Linked DNA regions of Homo sapiens: region 2 is linked to region 1. Evidence: fine-mapped expression QTL. Tissue or cell type: whole blood. Region 1 holds a variant in brackets; the other region holds the start of a gene. All regions are shown on one strand. Distances are from middle to middle. Region 1 overlaps CAPRIN2 (caprin family member 2). Region 2 holds the start of CAPRIN2 (caprin family member 2).

What was found. PIP is the estimated chance that this variant, and not a neighbour inherited with it, causes the effect.
Region 2: it holds the start of CAPRIN2, and the variant in region 1 is fine-mapped to the expression of CAPRIN2 in whole blood (TOPMed, PIP above 0.99).

What each region holds. Positions count from the first base shown.
Region 1 is chr12:30,712,726-30,723,146 of GRCh38, reverse strand. CAPRIN2 (caprin family member 2) reads left to right here. Exons shown (of 19, transcript NM_001385503.1): 13 at 2,232-2,336; 14 at 3,922-4,068; 15 at 6,471-6,639; 16 at 8,006-8,188; 17 at 9,262-9,362. Among named protein-coding and RNA genes, the nearest start is that of IPO8, 22 kb to the right of the region's middle. The variant T/C (reference allele first, on the strand shown) is at 3,032.
Region 2 is chr12:30,748,544-30,759,393 of GRCh38, reverse strand. It overlaps CAPRIN2 (caprin family member 2), which reads left to right and starts at 4,443. Exons shown (of 19, transcript NM_001385503.1): 1 at 4,443-4,643; 2 at 5,835-6,050; 3 at 8,261-8,323. The coding sequence starts at 5,874. LOC645485 (a long non-coding RNA gene) reads right to left here and starts at 4,320. Exons shown (of 2, transcript NR_135046.1): 1 at 4,123-4,320. RefSeq lists silencers at 2,915-3,118, 4,210-4,889 and enhancers at 4,817-4,986, 4,990-5,069.

The DNA.
Region 1 (10,421 bases):
GTTCTAAGCATATCTAGTTTTGTAGATTAAATACGACTTGTCCTAAAATGATTCCCCGATGACTATGCTGAAAACATATAGTACAGGTTTGCTGACTTTAGTAAGGAGAGACCAAGCCTGAAGAAATCAGAGGGTACCTTGTCTAAGAATATTATGTTCTCTTGAGCTACTTAAGTAATTTAGTTTATTAACATAGTAAAGTGTCTGAAGAAAGAAATTAATTTTTGTTGTTGTTGTTTTATTGAGACAGAGTCTCACTCTGTCGCCCAGGCTGGAGTGCAGTAGCATGATCTCGGCTCACTGCAGCGTCTGGTCTGCCTCACGGGTTCAAGCAGTTCTGTGTCTCAGCCTCCCGAGTAGCTGGGATTATAGGGCCTGCCACCACACCTGCCTAATTTTTGTGTATTTTTAGTAGAGACAGGGTTTCACCATCTTGGCCAGGCTGGTCTTGAGCTCCTGACCTCGTGATCCACCTGCCTTGGCCTCCCAAAGTGCTGGGATTACAGGTGTGAGCCACTGCACTCAGCCTTAATTTTCAAACTGTATTTGTTGAGCAGGGTATATTGGGGTTTTTCCTACTTTCCTCCAATTCACTGACTGCTTTTACTAAAGCAGTTACATTTTTTGTTCTAGCTGTTTAGGGTTCTACATAAGGCTTTCAATTGACAAGGTAAATTTTTTGAAAAGCACTGGTCTAGCTTAGTAGTTCTCTGGTGGAGGCTGTGGGATGGCTGCATCGAAGCCATCCCACTTTATATGTCATAAGGTATACATTTCTAGATAAGATCTTAGACCTGTTGGAGCAGAATTTTCTAGGGTGTTGCCTATATTTTTAAAAGCTTCCTGGATGAATCTTCATACCCATTTTTTGGAACATTGGTTTCAAATATCATGTTTATTCACCAATAACCCACCTCCAACTGGTCTACTTAAAAAGCACTAATTTGGAAGCAGGAACTGCCATCACTTCTAACTAAATACTAATGTAAATGTCTTTGTTATTAAATGAACCTTTTAACTGAAATTGAAGCCATTTTAAGATTAACTATCAAGTGGCCTAAGATGCCTTAATTTAGCATCTGTGAATCTTCCCTTAGCAACAGAGTTAGTTATTTCCCCACAACAGCCAGTTCTACTTTTCTTGGGCACTTGTCTCATTACTTTAATGACAGAGCCAGAAGAACGACCTAGTTTTAGAAACGCTCTAATCTTATAATGGTTCTAATATTTTGGCCAGATCTAAGTTATGCCTATTTACTTGGGTAATATAAAATGTTCTAAAGGATTTCAAATATTTTTTTCCATAAGATCTTAAAACTCAATCCCCAGTCTCCTTCCTAAAAAGCAACATATCATAATGCCTCCTTCAAGAAGGTCACTGAAACATGATTTCTCTGTTTTGTAACCCTTCATTAGTTTCCAGTTCACCTATTTTATTACTTGGGCTTCTGAGAACCACATAGAAGCATTTAGATAAAAGGAGTGGATTCACTGACACTTTAGATCTTGCTATTGCCAGATTTTTATGGGTGTCTCTCTGCTGTATTTGAATACCTGTTGTGCGATAGAATTCTTTCCTAGCCACTCTTTTAATTTTCTGTTGGTTACAGTTGTCACAACTTTTTTTCCTAATGTGCTTTCTCCCAATTTTTATTTTACATATGCTATCAGCTTGATTTTTCACTAGAATTTTTGGTGCCATTCTGATTTATGTAGAGCTTATTCTTCCTATTTATATTTCAGCCTGCCTCTTTAGGATGCTGATAGCACTTAGCATGAAAGCACAGTTATACTATGATCTCTGGCAGAGCTGTGCCTACAGTGTTAAACGTACCCGGAGCTCACCTTCCCGTGAATGCTATCTACTACAGGGCCAAGAATCAGTGAACATGGGATGAGATGTGTAGTTTTGGTGACCAGGCCTGGACAGGCAGTGTAGCTAGCTGGCTGCTTGAGTTTGAATCTCAGCTCTGCCACTTAATTGTAGTATGATCTTGGGCAAATGTCTTAACCTTTCTTTGCCACTGCTTAATTGTCAATAAAATGAGAATAGTACCTACCTCACAGATTACTGTTAGGATTAAATATATTAACACGTATAAAGTGTTTAGCAGAGTGCTTGACACATGTGCGTGTTCAGTAAGAGTAACATATTAGGAAGGCCAGGGCCCAAGAAATATAAAGTGAACAAAATGTGCCTTTTACAATATTTTGTATTTTCCTGTGTCTAGGCTACTTCTTCTCCAGTTACTTGTAGCTCAAATGCTTGCTTGGTTACTACCGATCAGGCTTCTTCTGGATCTGAAACAGAGTTTATGACCTCAGAGACTCCTGAGGTAAAAGACCAATTGTCTTAATTTCTTTTGTATCTTAAAGAATAGCAGAACCAGTTTATCTTATGAATTACAGGCATGATTAGTTGAATGATGTAACATTTATACTTTATTAATGTATTGCTTTCTATAGATATTGTGATCTTGGAACTTTTACAGGTAACTTTATTGTAGCTTTGCCATATAAATAGATTTAATATGGTATTGCCTTATCTAGTGCAATAAATGTCCATTTTTAATCTAAAAAAATGAAAAGTGTAGGTAGCATTAAGTCAAGTTTTCCACTATATTTACACTGAAGGACTTTTAGGAGAAAAGTCTCTTATTTGTATAAATGAAAGCTCAATAACTTTATTTTATTAATATTAGCACTTATTGAGTTGGAATGAGTTACAATCTTGTTTTGGCTAACTTTGTCAAAAATATTTTCGGTCAGATGCAGTGGCTCACACCTGCAATCCCAGCACTTTGGGAGGCCGAGGCAGGTGGATCACTTGAGGTCAGGAGTTCAAGACCAGCCTGGCCAACATGGTGAAGCCCCATCTCTACTAAAAATACAAAAATTAGCTGGGTGTGGTGGCTCATGCCTCTAGTCCCAGGTACTCAGGAGGCCGAGGACAGAGAATTGCTTGAACCCAGGAGGCGGGGGTTGCAGAGATTGTGCCACTGCACTTCAGCCTGGGTGACAAAGTGATACT[T/C]CATCTCAAAAAAAATAAATAAATAAAAACATTTTAACAGTATTATGTTTGTGCTTTCAATTTCAATTCTAAGTTACAGTTTTTACTAAGTTTGAGTAAATCCTTGAGATGGACATAGTAGGATGAATTTTGAGGAGTAATTTAGCAACTATCAGGTATTTTTTGTTAACTGTTATAGAAGAATATGTATTCATTATAGAATATAAGAAAATATAGATAATCCTTAGTTTTTATGGTGCTGGCTTGATCTGAATTTAAATTATCTCATTCCTCATTTTAAGAAGAGGAAGAAGTGATTGTTACCAAGTAACTCACAGCTGTCTGCTTCACAATCTAGTTGAGATTGGTTTTTGGTATTTTTTTTAAGCCTTTGGATTTATAATCTGTTATGTCAAGAACTTGTGGCTTCCTTAGGTAAGGATTACTTAAATTGGATCGGAGTTGTTTTCTGTTTTAGGTAGCTGACTTAGAAACCTACTAACTAATAAGTCTTTAAAATAGAGAAAAATTAACACTAAACAACTAATCCAAGTTTTTTCTTAAATCCAATTCTGATGTATAAATTTTGAATAATATTAGGTTCTTAACTGGAAATTACCATTTCAGGGTTTGAAAAGGACTAGGTGCGTATAAAAAGTTCAGCCCCTCATCTGTTAGACTGATTATTGGTAAGACTCTTTCACTTAGTCAGCAAGCTGTGCAAAGCAAATACTGGTATGCATCCTCAGCAATTGAGATTTGAAATTGTAAGCAAAAGCTATTCTTTTGCATTCCTGTGTCCAAATGTCATCCTAAAGAACTTGCTGACTTATGCCAGTTTGGGTTTTAGAGTAAGTTAACTGCTTGTTATATGGCAGGTGATTGGCTGATGCTGCATTTCTCCTCCCCAGGCAGCAATTCCCCCAGGCAAGCAACCGTCTTCACTAGCTTCTCCAAATCCTCCCATGGCAAAGGGCTCTGAACAGGGCTTCCAGTCACCTCCAGCAAGTAGTAGTTCAGTAACCATTAACACAGCACCCTTTCAAGCCATGCAGACAGTGAGTATGAAACATGAATGATGATTGCAGTTCATTATTCCTGTTAAAAGCCATTGTTTCTCTTACATAATTATTGGATACTATGTGAAAAGTTTGCCTTTTGTAAAATTTATTTGGGTTGGTAGAATTATATTTGGCCAATGGCAGTACTTGTTTGTGGCAGAAGAATAGGAAATCCACAGCCTCTAGAATTTTAAATGGGTGTTTTATCAGAGCATTATTCCTTCTTTTAGAATTAGTAGCAGGCAAAGCTGAGGATCCATATTAAACAAACAAAATGTGTGGGTGAGAAACAGAATTTCTAGCAACAGCTTAATAATACTAACCATTACTAATATCTTTACTAGTATTATTCCCTAACATCAGTAACCTGAAATACCGGACACATACTTGGGTGTTCTGTCATTGCTGAAACTTTCATTTTATTTTATCCTGATCTCAAGATGGTTTTTGGAGATTTGTTCAGATTTGTGTGGTGTTTTGAATTACGTATTTTTCTACAAATTGCAATTAAGGCTTTTTAAAAAAATAATATTACAGCTAGTTTGGTATGTTTATTCTCTAAACACAGACTAGTATAAAACAGTTCTTTGTGGGGGAAAAAAGCCTTAGTGAGCCAATAAGTACCCTTCCTATTGGTGCTTAGTGTCCCACTCCAAGCACTTCGGAGTGATGGTGGTAGTGGGGCCAGTGGAGTAGCATGGAAAGCAGGCACCACCCCGGGAGATCGGCTGGTGAGTCCAGACAGCTGAATTCACTCACCTGATCACTTAGAATATCTTATTTCTAGATAGAATAGTTCCTTGCTTTCACTCTTTTCCTGTCAGTTCATCCTGCACAGTATAGCCACATTGGTTTTACCTTTTCTTTTGTCTAATTAAAAGCAAGCAGTGTTCCATTACAGAATGAAATTTAGTACTCTGACACTCAGTACCTTTTCAAGTCTGTTATAACCTGTCACACTAGTCCCCTGAGCTTGCCTTATATATTCTTGTCACAGTACCTTTTGCTCATGCCAATCTGTTTTCTCTGCCTGTTTGAATCCTACCCGGTACACATTGGTTCTTACTCATTTATTGATTAAAGAATAGTTACAAAACCAGGCACTGTTCTTAATCACTGAGGTTGTAGCAGTGAAAAAAGGAAAGTATGCTCAGGAAACTTAACATTTTAGTATGGAGGTAGGAGGGCTAGGGAGACAAATACCTGTATATCAGGTGCTGTGTGATGTAAAGAAAAATGGAGCAGAATCAGGGAGCTAGAGAGTCATAGAAGGACAGATCGTTGCTTGCCACGTGGTAAAGATTCATTAAATGGTAAAATATTTCATTCATCTTTAGTTTTTGAAAAAAAGACCCCTTACCCTTGTATAGCTTTTATTCTCAGCATTATTATGATAGCATAATAGCAGGAAGATTAACTTTTGCTGTTAGGTGTAAAATCTGTCAGGAATCAAGTAGGAGTGTTTTTTTGTTTTTTTTTTACTATGGTAAAATGTATGTAACAGAATTTACCATTTTAATCTTTTTAAAGTATACAATTCAGTGGCATTAAGTATATTCATAATGTGCAATCATCATCACTACTTTCAGAACTTTGTCATTATTCCAAACAGAAACTCAGTACTCATTAAACAATAACTTCCTGTTTGTAACCCCCTCCACAGCTCTGCTAACCTCTATTCTACTTCGCTTCTATGAATTTACCTATTCTACCTCATATTAGTGGTATCCTACAACATTTTTCCTTTTGTATCTGGCTTACTGCACTTTGCATAATGTTTTCAAAGTTCATTTGCGTTATACAGTGTATCAGGATTTCATTTTTGTATGGCTGAATAATCCATTTTATGTATGTACTTCATTTCGCTTATCCATTCATCTGTTGGGAAATTGAGTTGTTTGTACCTTTTGGCTATTCTGAATAATGCTGCTATGAACATGGGTGTGTAAATATCTGTTTGAGTCCTGCTTTCAGTTATTTTGGGTATATACCTAGAAATGGAATTAGTGGATCATATGTTAATTCTATACTTTTTGAAAAGGCAGCATACTGTTTTCCACAGGGCGACTGCACCATTTTGCATTCCCACCGGCAATGCATGAGGGTTCCAGTTCCTCCGCATCCTTGCCAACACTTATTTTCTGTCTTTTTGATAATAGCCCTGCTAATGGGTATAAAATTTTATGGCATTATGGTTTGGATTTACATTTCCCTAATGACTAATGATGATGAGCATGTTTTCATGTGCTTATTTGCCATTTATCTTCTTTGGAGAGATGTCTATTCAAGTCCTTTGCCTGCAAAATAGAAGTTTTTGAATGTACAATTTTGCTGGATACCACCCTTAAGCATTTTCTTTGAAACTTCCCAAATGACTCAGTGTGTCCTTGTCTTTTAAGGTATTTAACGTTAATGCACCTCTGCCTCCACGAAAAGAACAAGAAATAAAAGAATCCCCTTATTCACCTGGCTACAATCAAAGTTTTACCACAGCAAGTACACAAACACCACCCCAGTGCCAACTGCCATCTATACATGTAGAACAAACTGTCCATTCTCAAGAGACTGGTAAGATCTTTGCATATGATATTTGGAAGACTTAGAGGGACAGCCAATTGAATGGACAGCAAGTCTAGGAAGTCTGTAGTGACACTTTAGAAGTATTTTCCTGACCAGTAAGCATTATTTCTTTACATGTTCCTCCAGTGTTGAGAAAAACCTAATGCCCTTTTTTGTGTTAAGTTTACCTATTAATTTTAATTTTTGTAGAGATAGAACTTAGATGACGGATTTAACCTTGAAGTAGGTTTGTATTTTTAAATCTATTTGCTTTGATTACCACAGACAGTGATTGAGGTAGATGGGCACTATCTGGCTGCTTATATGAAGGTTTTGAAACCATTCTGTTAATCCTTTTAACAAATGGTTATCTGTCCTTTTCTATCTTATAATAAAAGATTGAAGATATGACTTAGTATGCTCATTGTACTGTTTGCTTAGAGATGGGAGGCTATTTTGATTTTTCATGCTGTTCTAAATCATGAAAGAATAGGTAACTTTGTACTCATTTCTTAATTTAAATTTAAGAAGCACTTGTAGATTTTTTGTATTGGTATTTCAGATCCCTATTGAGTTTTTTAACTGAAGTCGGAGCAAATGAATTGAGCATTCTGAGTACTTGGCTAATCAAGTGATGAAGAGGTAGTAATATGAATTCTGGGACCTAGGCATAGATGACCTGATTCTGTTCTCCCCTCTACTGTTGAAAGACAGGGCAGGTGACTTACGTAAGGGATATTTTTGTCAGGTGCCTTCTCAGATATTAATTAGAATCCATTTTCTTTTACTCCCTCATCTGGAGTATTTAGCCTGCTTTTTAAAAATTGTCGTAAAGTATACATAACATAAAAATTACCATTTTAATCATTTTTAACTATATAGTTCTGTGGCATTAAGTACAACCAAACTGTTGTGTAATTATTACCACTGTCCACCTCCAGAACTTTTCATCTCCCCCCAACTGAAACTTTGTAATCATTTAATACTAACTCCTCCTCCTCCTCTCCCCCCAGCCCCTGGCAACCACCATTCTACTTTCTGATTCTGAAAATGACTGCTCTAGGTACCTCATATAAGTGGTATACAATATTTGTGCTTTTGAAACTAGCTTATTTTACTTGGCATGTCTTAAGGGTTCATTCATGTTGTAGCATGGGTCAAAATTTTCTTCCTTTTTTAGGCTGAATAATATTCCATTATATATATGAATTACGTATTTGAGTCATGTAGATGAATTATATACATGAATATATGTATCTCCTATTTATTTTTAAAGGCAGCAAATTGTATTAATGATTTTGATATATATTGGCTTTTAAGTATAAAGACTATTACCATTTAACTCTTGGACCCTAAAATCGTTTTTCTTAAGCAGCAAATTATCATCCTGATGGAACTATTCAAGTAAGCAATGGTAGCCTTGCCTTTTACCCAGCACAGACGAATGTGTTTCCCAGACCTACTCAGCCATTTGTCAATAGCCGGGGATCTGTTAGAGGATGTACTCGTGGTGGGAGATTAATAACCAATTCCTATCGGTCCCCTGGTGGTTATAAAGGTATGCCCTGAATAAAATTGAATTATACTGAATTATTTTGTCTGTGTGTTTACTTGACTCACACCATTTTTACCTAACCTTGCTCCCTTTTGTCATTTGCAACGTAGTAGAGAATTTCCTGTTTGTGGATAATAAAGTATTTTTAATATACCTATTCTCCATAACAGAGGAACTAATTTTCTGTATGAAAAGCAGATTGATTTTGTGACTTACTGAAGTGGAAAGTTTCACCATATTGTTTTACAAAGGATGAATTTTCATATTTGAGTAATGTTTTTCTTTTGTTGACTTAACTCTGCTAAAAGTGTATCATATTTACAAGATGCCCATTTTCTAATTATTTCTAGTTATTTGTTAGATTATGTCACAAAGAAGAATATAGAATTTGAGACTATAATAGTGATATTCTCTTAAACTGTTGTTATGGTTCCAAGTGTCCTAGTCACTACTTATTATTAACAAAAATACTCTAGACAGGCTGGGTGTGGTGGCTGACGCCTGTCATCCCATTACTTTGGGATGCCAAAATAGGAGGATCATTGAGGCCAGGAGTTTGTGACCAGCCTGGGCAACATAGTGAGACCCTACCTCTACAAAGAATTAAAAAATATTAGCTGGGCATGGTGATATGCACCTGTAGTCCCAGCTACTTGGGAGGCTGAACTGGGAAGAATGCTTGAGTCCAACAGTTTGAGGTTACAGTGAGCTGTGATCTCACTACTGTGCTCCAGCCTGAGTAACAGAGCGAGGCACTGCCTATAAAAAAGCAAACAACAACAAAACAACCCTAGACAGAGGCCCTAAGTACCTAACTGCCCTACCACCACCCTTTCCCAACCCCACCTTGCATTTAGCAGTAGTAAATTTATAAACCTGGCTTATTTGAAGACAGCAATGTTCTATAAATATGTTTTACTTTGGAAGCAATATTAGTAGAGTTTGCTTAAAGAGGGCATAAGTCTAATGATGGCATTATATAATCAATTTAACTTTTAAAGCAATATAGAATTAGACTGTTTAAAAGTTTAATATGATTTTGTCCATAATCTTATGTAAGTTTGTTTATTTATTAGGTTTTGATACTTATAGAGGACTCCCTTCAATTTCCAATGGAAATTATAGCCAGCTGCAGTTCCAAGCTAGAGAGTATTCTGGAGCACCTTATTCCCAAAGGGTAAGTAAGAATAGTTGTCATAGTTGAATAGTGGTACAGTTGTTGATGTTAAGCTGGTGATTGAAGTATATCGCAGAGTCATAATTTGTTTTCTGAAAGTGCACTCTTAGTTTTAAAACTACTTGTAAGTCCTATGGAGAAGAGTTGAGTTGGAAGTTTTTGCAATTACCCAAGAAAGATAAATGATAATTGCTTGTTATGTGGAACTTAGAAGGTGTTAAGGACATTATTAATCATGTTGTTTGCATTAACTCATTTGCTCTTCCACCTCACAGGAGAAATGGGTTCAGAGGTTAAATAACTTACCTAACGTCACTTATCAAGGAAATGGTAAACTAAGATTAGAATGTGACTTTCTTACTCCAGAGCCCATGATTTTAACTTTACTACATTGCCTTCAGCTTAACTTGCCTAAATAGCAAATGTAGCAAAGCCCTTTTTCGTTAAGTTTTTTGTTGTTGTTTATACTTACTTGAAGAACCCAGCATATTTTCTTTACTACATATGGTAAAAGACTCATAAGAGGATGTTAGAAATTCCACTTTAACAAAACTTGGGAACTTACGGATTTGAATCTATAATACATCAGCATATTCAGTTTTGAAGTTTTACAAGCTTTTGAGTATGTGTATGGTACCATACTGAGTTCTGTTGGTAATATATAAAATACCTATCCTTGAAGAACTTACAGTTACATAGGGTAGGATGGATATCCACACAGAGGCAGTATTGAAAAGGGTGAAGGCCAGGCGTGGTGACTCACGCCTGTAATCCCAGCACTTTGGGAGGCTGAGGCAGGTGGATCACTTGAGGTCAGGAGTTCGAGACCAGCCTGACCACCAACAGGGTGAAACCCCATCTCTACTAAAAATCAAAATTAGCCGGACGTGGTGGCACACGCCTTAATCCCAGCTACTCAGGAGGCTGAGGCAGGAGAATCGCTTGAACCTGGCAAGTGGAGGTTGCAGTGAGCAGAGATAGCGCCATTGCACTCCACCCTGGGCAAGAAGAGCGAGACTCTGTCTCAAAAAAAAAAAAAAAAAAAAAAAAAGAGTGGAA
Region 2 (10,850 bases), 36 kb before region 1:
TAAAGTGAAAACATCTTTCAGCCTTTTCCATGCATATTTAAAATGAAATATTTTACAAAGTCACAATCTTACTAAATGTTTTATACCGTGTTTTATCCTGCCCTTTTTTCACTTCATATAATATCATGTCATTGAATATTCTTTGAAAAGATGATTTGTACTACTTGAATTAAAATTCATGGCTTAGAGTCACATTATTTAGCCATTTCTCTATTGTTGAGTGTCTAGGTTGTTGTTTACAATTTCCCACCACTTAAAAAAATGTGGTGCCTAGCATTTTCATAAATAAGTGATTGTTTGCATCTCTGATTATTTTGATAGGGGAGATTCCTAAAATAAAGGCTACTGGATCAAAAGATATGAATATTTTAAAATGTCTTTCTGAATGAATTCCTTTGAAGACACTGTAACACTGAATTGCTTATTCTTTTTGGTTTCAATCTTCAAGTTTAATTGCCTATTTCTATACTTTATTTACTCCATGGAAGCAGCAAGGGAAAGGGATGAAGCGGCCTGGAGTGCATGTTGCATTAGAGGGCAGAAGACCTAGATTCTTTAGGTCTTGGAAAACTCACAAATGTCCACCAGCTTTATATACCTTGTCTTTCAAATAAGGGCGGGGGGGTGGGATTCCTTAGCCATAAATTCCACAGTTCTCTAGTTCTCCTTGGCTACTAGGAGAAATGCTGGGCTTCGTATTATGGCAAAAGCAGCAAATACAGGTATCTCAGTGGAGGATATGTTTTCATGGCCTAGTCTCTAGTCAGATGCTTTTACAGAAACGAAATGAAATCCTTAACAATGCTGTTAATAGGTAATATTATGTTTGTTTTATTATCAGCAGTTTTACAGCTGAAAAAACTGAAGCCCACAGAATTTCAGTCACTTGCCCAAGATCATTCAGCTAGTAAGGGGCAGGAACAAGAATCCAATCCATGTGTGTCTGGCTCCAAAGCCCATGCTGTTGACACTTTATAATACTTCAAAGTTGGACAGAAATCATATTTTTATGGGCTTGATATTATTGATTTAATGACACACATTCATAAGTTCTACACTGATTACTCCTCCTCTAAAGAACTTTTATTTCAAAGGTACTTAATGGTGGAGCACTATTAATGCATTAACTTCAATATCAGAAAAACAGTATCAACAAAACCAATAGGAATGTATAATTTTATGAAAAAATAAGCCTACCAAATTATTAATCTTACAAACTAGATATTTCTCTAAAAATACCCTAAACTATTATGGCAAGTTTTTTTTCCTACCTGAGGTCTATATTTCTCAGTTCTTTACTTTCATAAAAAGTTTCTCAAATATTTGAATAGACACTCTATGAATCAGCAAGTATGTGAAAGTACTGTATATATATATATATATTTTTTTTTTTTTTTTTTTTTTGAGACAGAGTTTCGCTCTTGTCATCCAGGCTGGAGTGCAGTGGCGCAATCTTGGCTCACTGCAACCTTCTCCTCCTGGGTTCAAGCGATTCTTCTGTCTTAGTGTCCCAAGTAGCTGCGATTACAGGGGCGCACCACCATGCCCGGCTGATTTTTGTATTTTTAGTACAGATGGGGTTTCGCCATGTTGGCCAAGCTGGTCTTGAACTCCTGATTTCAGGTGATCTGCCTGCCTTGGTTTCCCAAAGTGCTGGGATTACAGGCGTTAAGCCACCACACCCGGCCAAAAGTACTATCTTTTTAACAACCTTATGTTATTGTTCCTGTCTTTTTCTTTCTTAGCCTTCTTATTATTTTTCTTGGTGACTTTCTCCCTCTCTCTCTGTCTCTTGGTGGCAATTCTCCACAAAGTCTCGTAGAGCCAATAAGAAACAGACTTCTATCACCCACAACCATGTGTCTAAGATAATTTCTCATATCTCTACTAACACGCTACCAGGTTTCACATCCTTTGGTGGATTTATCTTTCCAGTTTCAACAATATGAAGCTATATTAATTTTAAGTGACTACAGCATAACCATCCCTGCAGCAATTGAACATTTGTCAGACAGTGCATATTTAACACCTTCACATTTTCAAAGGACGTAAAGTCTGGCTGTTTTTGTAGAAATCAAACCATCCATTATTAAAGTCTTTAGTATTTTTGTCTTCGGGTTTTTTGATTTGGTTGTTTTTGCCATTTACATCTATAGCTTTTACTGAATTCCCACTTAGCTCCACGAAGGCAGAAGCTATATTGTCTCAGTCACCATTATGCCTTATCACCTACTACATAGCAAGTGCTAAGTAAACATCTGTTGAATGAATAAATGAATATATTCTTCTATCAATGATTCGAGACAACACTTTTTATCATATTTCCAATATAGTTATTCCTTGCTAAGCTTGGAGGTGGCATGCCACAGATACTGCCTCACAGTTGGCAAGAAAAGTCACGGTCTTACAGAAAATAGGGAGTGGGAGAGGGTAAAATAAACTAAACTCCTGACAAATAAAAGTTTTGGGGACATGTGCTTTCAAAGTAAGCCAGACTTACTGACTTTAAAGATCTCCTCTAGCAGAAAAGCTTTTATCTGAATCATCTTTTTAACTTGTTCAGAAGACATTGCTTCAAGAGTATCTACTGTGGTATGTTCTCCTACAAATGTCACGCCATACGTATACAGACTGTACCCTACTGGACTTGAAATTCAATTATTTTTGCTTTTGCATTCTTTCGTGATGCATTTTTATAATCCTTCCTGAGAAGTAAATCTGTATGGATTTATTCATTTAGAAGAATATCCATTTAGTAGAAAATTTAAAATTTACGGCCTCCTTTTTGCCTGACCGATTAGAAGGCAAACATTTCTTTCTTTCTTTCTTTTTTTGAGATAGAGTCTTGCTCTGTCACCCAGGCTGGAGTGCAGCGGCACAATCTCGGCTCACTGCAGCGTCCGTCTCCGGGTTTCAAGCGATTCTCCTGCCTTAGCCTCTGAGTAGCCATGATTACAGGCACATGCCGCCATGCTCGGCTAATTTTTGTATTTTTAGTAGAGATGGATATTCACCACGCTGGCCAGCCTGGCCTCGAACTCCCGACCTCAGGTGATCCACCCCGCCTCGGCCTCCCAAAGTGCTGGGATCACAGGCTTGAGCCACTGCGCCGGCAGGGGGCAAACATTTCATGATTAATCTGACTGAAATACCATTTTTAGGTTCATCATTAGCTCGGACTACAACTCAGGCTGTGCTGTAACTTTGTGTCAACTCATTGATCCAACAGTGTGTCCTTCACATTTTTTCTTATGGCCACTGTTTTTTGTGTTACCAAAGGTGAAGGCATAGCCTTCCTCTCCTCATGTTCAGCATCTTCTGCGTTTCTCTGTTTATAAACAATGAGAAAAAGGGAAAATCTAGTATTTCTCTGACCCTGAAGAACACATATGGGATTCAGAGATTCAAAGTTAAAATGCAACATTAGGGTACATTATGTCACCAGGGACCGAAAAGAACACGGATAATAGATGCCAAAAAAATGTATTAAGTAATGTTAAAATTAATTTGTGTGAAGTTGACCAAGGCTTTTAAAACTAGACCTTTGTTTCCTTGATTCTTCTTCTGAATTTTCTGTTCTTTTGCTAGTCTCAATATTTTTTATCAGAGCGTCAGGGACAATCAGGACCTAAAAAACTCCACTTGGTGTAATAAGTAAACACATGTTGGGGCAAAGTATTGCTGAGTGTGTGTGTGTGTTTCTTATTTGGTATCAGAAACACCTTCCTTTCCTCAATAAACTTTTACATATTTCCAGACTTTTCTCTTAATTTTATGTAACCTTACAAAGATTTTTTACAGCTTTCTCTGCGTGCCAGTCAATTAATGTGTGTCACATGAACAAATAATACGGCTTGAATAAACTCAATCCTATTATTGCAGGTTGCGAAGTCACCTACTCCGTTTTTATGGCGATGCTGATTTGGGGCATTCTGCTCTTACAGGCTGATTCCCCGGTAAGGAAACGGTGTTTTTTCCCCATCCTACTATGAAAGATGCTATCTGAGGGGCAAAGGCGCATCTGCATTTCACGACTACCCACTAGGCTACGACAGCCTCAAGCATGGCTTATCTGGTAGTTCCGCGAAGGGCTCGCTGCCCTCCTGGAGCTATTGGAGTCACCTGTTCAAGGTCGCGAAACCACCGGTGCCGCCGGCAATCAGCGAGGTCCAGCGGGGCTGCGCGGTTTCCGGCCTGCCGGCGTTCGGCGTCGCCTCGGCCCCACCTGGTGCCCCGCAATCTGCGCAAAGGCTGGGAGACCGCGCCCTCTCCCGACCTACCACCAGCCCAAGCTGGGCCCGGAACTAACACCCGACAAGCGCTGGCGGCCAGCTGCAGCCGGGAAGGAGCACCGGAAGGAGGCGGTGGCGGGGCGGCCGAGGGCGGAGCGGGCCGGGGCGGGGCGCGGCCTACAAAAGCCACGCGCGGCGCGGTGGGCGGGCCTGGGCGCGAGCGGCTGAGTCGGCTGGGTCTCTGGCGCCGCAGAGGCCGCGGGCGAGGACCGGGAGGGGAGAGGGAGGAGACAGGAGGAGGAGACGCGAGTGCGGGGTGGCGCCGGTCCACCTCCGCAGCGCTCCTGCCTCCCCCAGGCTTTGGAAGGCGGGCCCGGGCTGCGGCAGCGGCGGCCTCGGCTGCCTGGGGAGGTGAAGTCGGGCTGCGGCGGCCTCGGTCGGCGCGGCGGAGGGAGGCGGCTGACCCGGCGAGGGTGGGCAGGTCTGGGCGGCCGGCGCCGCTGCGAGGTGGAGGGGCGGCTTGGCATCCCCGGGGCGGGGCGGGGCTCCCGAGGGCCGCGGTCGGTGCGTTTTCCGCAGGTCAGCCTCCCCCGGGGCCTTGCAGAAGCGGCTTCTGCGTACCCGGGGCGGCTGTGGGAAGGGTGGGGGTCGGTGCCTGCAGGGCTCTCCGTGGCCGCTCGGGAGAGGTGCTCTTCGCTCAGGCTCCCCCGGAGACTTGAGGGGGTGCGCGCTGGCGTGCATGGGGCCTGTTCTGTCCTTGGTTTGGGGATGCTCCTAAGGGGGGAGAAAGGGATACCTCGGGTGCTTGGAGGTCGAGAGACGGATACGTAAGTGCGCAAGGGCCACTGATTAGGGCACGGGAAGGGCTCGCTAGAATGAGCTCTTAAACTGGTTGGGTGTAAGCGGTTTTGGGCTAGTCTAAACCAAACAACTGAGAATAAACGCGGGGTTCCTGCAGGTTGAGAGAGTACCTGTCTGCAAATGTCCAGTAGTGATGGATTGCCTTGTAGGCCCCAGAGCAATCGGGGAAGTTAGCATTCTTGTTCAAGAAGCTGCTGGTTCACTTAGAGCTATAAAAGAATGTTGTGAGTTTGGATTTTCTTCCAAACGTTCAGGATTGAGGTTAGGGCTGGTGGTGAGGGATCATGTAAAGAGGTTTGAGTGGCTCAGCCTTAGGTCCCGGTGTGGAAAGCTTATTCTTTTGGTGTCATCACGTGGCCATGGGAATTATTTAGAATGTGATCTGCCCTCATGAGAAGAAAGGAGCTCTGAAGCCGTTGCAGTTCTTCCTCCCTATGTGGAAAATCGAATTTCTGGAAACATCCTCCGTATTGGGAGATTTTGCCTATGTAAAGGCTATCCTTATTGGCTAGCGGCACTAATTACTTTAAAAGTAGGATGGAAGTACAAGTATCTCAAGCATCATTGGGTTTCGAGCTCACTTCTGTGGAAAAGAGTTTAAGGGAGTGGTCTAGACTTTCCAGGGAAGTTATTGCCTGGCTGTGTCCCTCTAGTCCTAATTTTATACTTAACTTTCCCCCACCTCCTTCAGCCTCATCTGTTTCAATGGTGCAACTCTTTTCATCCCCTTTTGGTTACCAGTCACCTTCAGGCCATTCAGAGGAGGAAAGAGAGGGGAATATGAAGTCAGCCAAGCCCCAAGTGAACCACAGTCAGCATGGGGAAAGCCAGCGGGCCTTGAGCCCCCTGCAGTCTACTCTGAGTTCTGCTGCATCTCCTTCCCAAGCGTATGAGACCTATATTGAAAATGGACTCATATGCCTTAAACACAAAATTAGAAACATCGAGAAAAAGAAGGTAACTTTTTTTCTTCCAGTCCTGTAGATGCATGATCTTAAAGATTAAGGAGCTGACATTTTTCTTTCAGAGCTCATAGGTGTTCTCTACTAAAAATTTAACTAACCTTAGGTTTAGCTGCTTTAAACAAGCAGGTTACGTGTTGGAAATATTAAACATTTTCTGTTTCATTTGTCAAAACAACGGAATAAAAATATTCTTCATAGTTACATTATGCATGCTGCTGTTGAAATACTTTAAGAGCTAGCTATTTTAGGTGAGATTAATTCCTTATGTAGTATTAATGTTTCTTTTCATAGATGTGTTAATAGCTGATTTTTTAGCTTGTTTTCCTTGTGACTTTCTGCAGCAGTTGATATTGCAGTATAACTGCTGCAGTCGTTGGAAGGTTTAACCGTAGTAGAACTAGAAAATGTTTTACCACTTACTTTTGTGGTGTTAGGTGAAGATTTAAGATTGCTAGGTGAAAGCGTGGTAGTCAGCCTTGTAAAGAGACCCAGGAGTTAAGCCTAGCTACAGAAAATGCTGTTGTAAAGATCTAAATCCTTCTTCATTTCCTGAGTCATGTAGCCTGTGAAACAGACTGCACGTTGCTTTGCTGTATTACGTTTCTCTTCTGCTTTTGGACAGGTGAGGTTGAGTGACTATCTGGACCTATGTGTTGTTAAGTACTTTTGTGCCAAGACCTAGTTAGACCTTAAAGTTGCTTTTAATGGAGGAGTGTGAAGAGACTCTTTAGAGTCTGGTTGACTCTTTTTTTTTTTTTTTTTTAACCTAAGAAAGTAAAGAAGGGCAAGTTGCTAGTAGCTTCTCTGTAGCTCTCACCATTTATCTTTTTAACGTATGCAGTTGATCACAAGTGTGGTAAGGTGAGTGTGCCAGGTCAGCACAAATTCCCCATCACTGTGATAAATGATCAAAGCAGGATCTATTGACGGAGCCTCCCTCAGGTGGAGGAACTACATATATGTATGCTTATGCTCTCTAGCTTACCTATAGTACCTCTTTAATTTTGAATACCAGATAGTACGAGTACTTTTGTTTCAACCTTCTGGGAAAGAATTTTTCCACTAAAGCCAATACAGGAGGAACCTAAAGAATGCTTTTAGAGTACCATAGTGGGTCCGGGTGCAGTGGCTCACACCTGTAATCCCTGCGCTTTGGGAGGACAAGGCAGGTAGATCACCTGAGGTCAGGAGTTTGAGACTAGCCTGGCCAACATGATGAAACCCCGTCTCTACTAAAAATACAAAAAGAATTAGCCAGGCGTGGTGGGGGGTGCCTGTAATCCCACCTACTCAGGAGGCTGAGGCAGGAGAATCGCTTGAACCCAGGAGGTGGAGGTTGCAGTGTGCCGAGATCGCGACACTGCACTCCAGCCTGGGCAACGGAGTGAAATTCTGTCTCAAAAAAAAAAAAAAAAAAAAAAAAAAATACCATAGTGGGTTTATGTCATTATTATGGGGCCAACAAATGCAATTTATTTTTCATAATTTCCTTAAGTATCAAATATAATATGAAAAATAACTTCAAGATGAGCCTACTCTATGATAATGATAGAAAAGAATTCTTGGTGTTTCTGTACTTCCAATAGGAGTTTCTTTTTAGGAAAATGCCACATAATTCAACAGGTAACTGAACTAATAGTTTAAGCATGAGATTAGAGTAGGACTTCGTAACCTCTACACCACTGACATTTTGTACAGGATAATTCTTCGTTGTAAAGGGCTGTCCTGTGCATTTTAAGATGTTTGGCAGCATCCCTGGCCTCTAACCACAAGATACCGGTAGCACTCTTCACCTCCCTTCCCCCTCCCAAGTTGTGATAACCAAAAATATCCCTAGATATTGCCAGGTATCTTTGGGGGACAAAATTGTTCCCTGTTGAGAAGCTACTGTGTTGGGGACACATGATTTAGTAGGTAAGTCCCCATGGGTTAAGTAGTCTAGTTATTAATAGAGTCATTAAGAGAAAATAGTTTTATTACTGCTTAGGTTTTGTAATTCCAGACTCATGTGATTCTGTGTATTTTTTCTCCCCTGACTGGAACTCATCTACAGTTGCTGCATGCCGTATAGTAAAATGATAGTCTTGCAGATTGATAGCTTACTTCAAGGACTTTGTTTCCTAGAGACAAGATCTGGCATTTACTTTATTTGCTTCTGAATTTTATGTCAGACTATGGTAGATACAAGTTTCTCTTTTGTAGCTCAAACTGGAGGATTATAAGGATCGCCTGAAAAGTGGAGAGCATCTTAATCCAGACCAGTTGGTAAGTGGCTTATGATCTTTTAGTAAGACTTGCTGGTTTTCTTTTCTTAATAAAACTACATGGATTTAGTGCGATCAGTCTTTATAGCACACACACACACAGTTAAAATCCATAGTTTGTTCAAAACTGTTTCAGAAGACTTTGTTGTTTGTGCCTGTTAGATCTCAGATATGACTTTTTGTTCTGTTGACTAGAAGATGGTACGCATGGGGGTGTAGATTGTTAACAGGAGTGAAAGTGTAGACTGTCACTACGAGTTAACATACAGATTTAAGTTAAACTTATGTGCCAGAGTGGACTGAAGGAGAAGAGAAGGCATACTCTACCTTTCAGCTCTTCACTGGTATATTCTAAACCTGACATCTTTCTGCTCCAGAATGTGAAAGAATATTTACTGTAGCTTACCTTAGTTTTCTCTAGCTGCCTCACCTTAATTCCTTTCATGGTCTCTTCCTACTTTTCTATCCTGGGTTTTCGTGTGCCCTCTCAGGAGGCATATTATCTGATAGATATCTGGCCTTTAAAAAAAAAAAAAGCTTACTATAAACATTAAGCTACTTGCATTTTTTTCCATCGGTTAACTTCTCAATGATATACCTGGTAATTGCAAATTTTATGTAATTTGTGAAGGAGAGTTTTTGCAGCGCGGAAAGAAAACAGTGCTTCGTGGATGTTTGCCATTTTGACTTGATCATGTCTCCTGGCTAAGAAGGGACACATTTATTTGAAAATTATTTCCTCTTGTTTGTGGGTCTTTTGTCTTTATGTTTTTCAACTGAAATCTTTCGCTATACATCATAGATACTGACATTCAAGGACTTTTCCCATTCCATAGTGACTCCTCTTCACTGACCCAGAATTTTTGTGATGTAGTAAGTTATAATTTTGCTGAGACACATATTTGAATTGTGTGAGCTCTGCAAATGGTGCGCTCACTTAGCTGGGGAGAGGGCTTAGCTGGACATGCAGCATTTCAGCATAGCTTTGTTTTAAAATCACGGTGTGTTCAATAACTCTTAAAGTGATAAAACTTTTTTGTGTGTAAATATTCTTGAATGAAGTGTCCTGTTAGAGTTGTGTTCCTTATTTTTAAGAAACATCGGGGAGAGGGGGTTGGAGATTGATTGTTCCCATGGTAGCTCTCTAAGAAATGTTAAAGACATGCTATATTTCATTGCTCCAGCCAGGCAAACTTCATTCTCAGTATTTCATTACTGTCTTTATAGCCACATGTTGCTTCTATAATAAATGTATGAACTTTGATATCTGGAGTAATACTCTGACAGCTGCCCAATTTATATTGCCAACAGATCAGTCCTCTGAACTCAATATTTCTGTGTCCAGTTGCCTATCCGACACTTCATAATTTTTCCCTGTTCCCCAAAACCTGCTCCTCCTCTAATCTTAGCTATGTCAGTTGATGGCTTGATCAACTAGCAGGAGTTGCCAAAAATCTTGGAGAATTTATCTCCTTTCTCCTCATAGCTCACATCTAGCTCATCAGCAAGTCTGCTCACTTCTCCCTTTAAGATAAATGAGGAAACTGACCATTTCTGCCATCTTCATCTAGGCTATATAACCTTTCATCTGCGTTACTTATTATAGTAGTAATTACTTCTGCCTCACAGGTTTTTCTATTTCTGCCCTCTCCAAGTCTGTTCAACGTAGTAAACTCAGTGATCCTGTACTGATGCAAGTCAAGATGGTTATTCCTCTGCTCAGAAGTCCCCATTTGTTCCCCTCTGGTGGTAAAATGTCCTTAGTGTGTCTACAAAGCCCTACAGAATATCCTTCCCACTTCCTTTGACATTTTGACTCCATTTCTTGCTCTTCTTTCCCTCGCTAGCTCCATTCTAGCTACCCTAGCCTCCTTGCTGCTCCTCAGACATCCCAGGCACACTTCTGCAGGGTTTTTTGCACGTGATATTCCTACTGCTTGGGATGTTCTTTCTCCAGATGTTTCAGTGGCTCAATTCCCAACCTCCTTCAGCCTTTTATTTGAAGGTACCCACAGTGAGATCTGTTCTCACCTCACTATACCTCCACTTCCCCATTCACACTGCTTAGCTCCTTTCCTTGCTTAATTTTTCTTAATAGAAGTTAGCACTTCTCTGACAAGCTATGAAGTTTTATTTTGTCTGTTTCCTACCCTTACAATGTAAGTTCCATGAAAGTAAGGATTTTGTCTGTTCATTGCTGTATTCCTAGTGCGTAGAATAGAGTGTAGCATGTAGTAGGTATATAAAATATTTATTACATATAGATTTACTAAGTATAAAATGAATGTTAGGTCTTTAGATGTAACTAAGCACGTAGTTGGTGGTACTTTTGAGAAATCACACCTCATACATGCAATATATAAGGTAGAAAATTTAGAAAATGCAGATAAGTCAGAAGGAAAAAAAAATAGAATCTTCAGAGAATTGTTACCAGTATAGGCATACCTCAGAGATATTATGGGTTCTGTTTCAGACCACCATGATAAAGTGAAGATTGCAATAAAGCAAGTCACACAAATTTTTGGTTT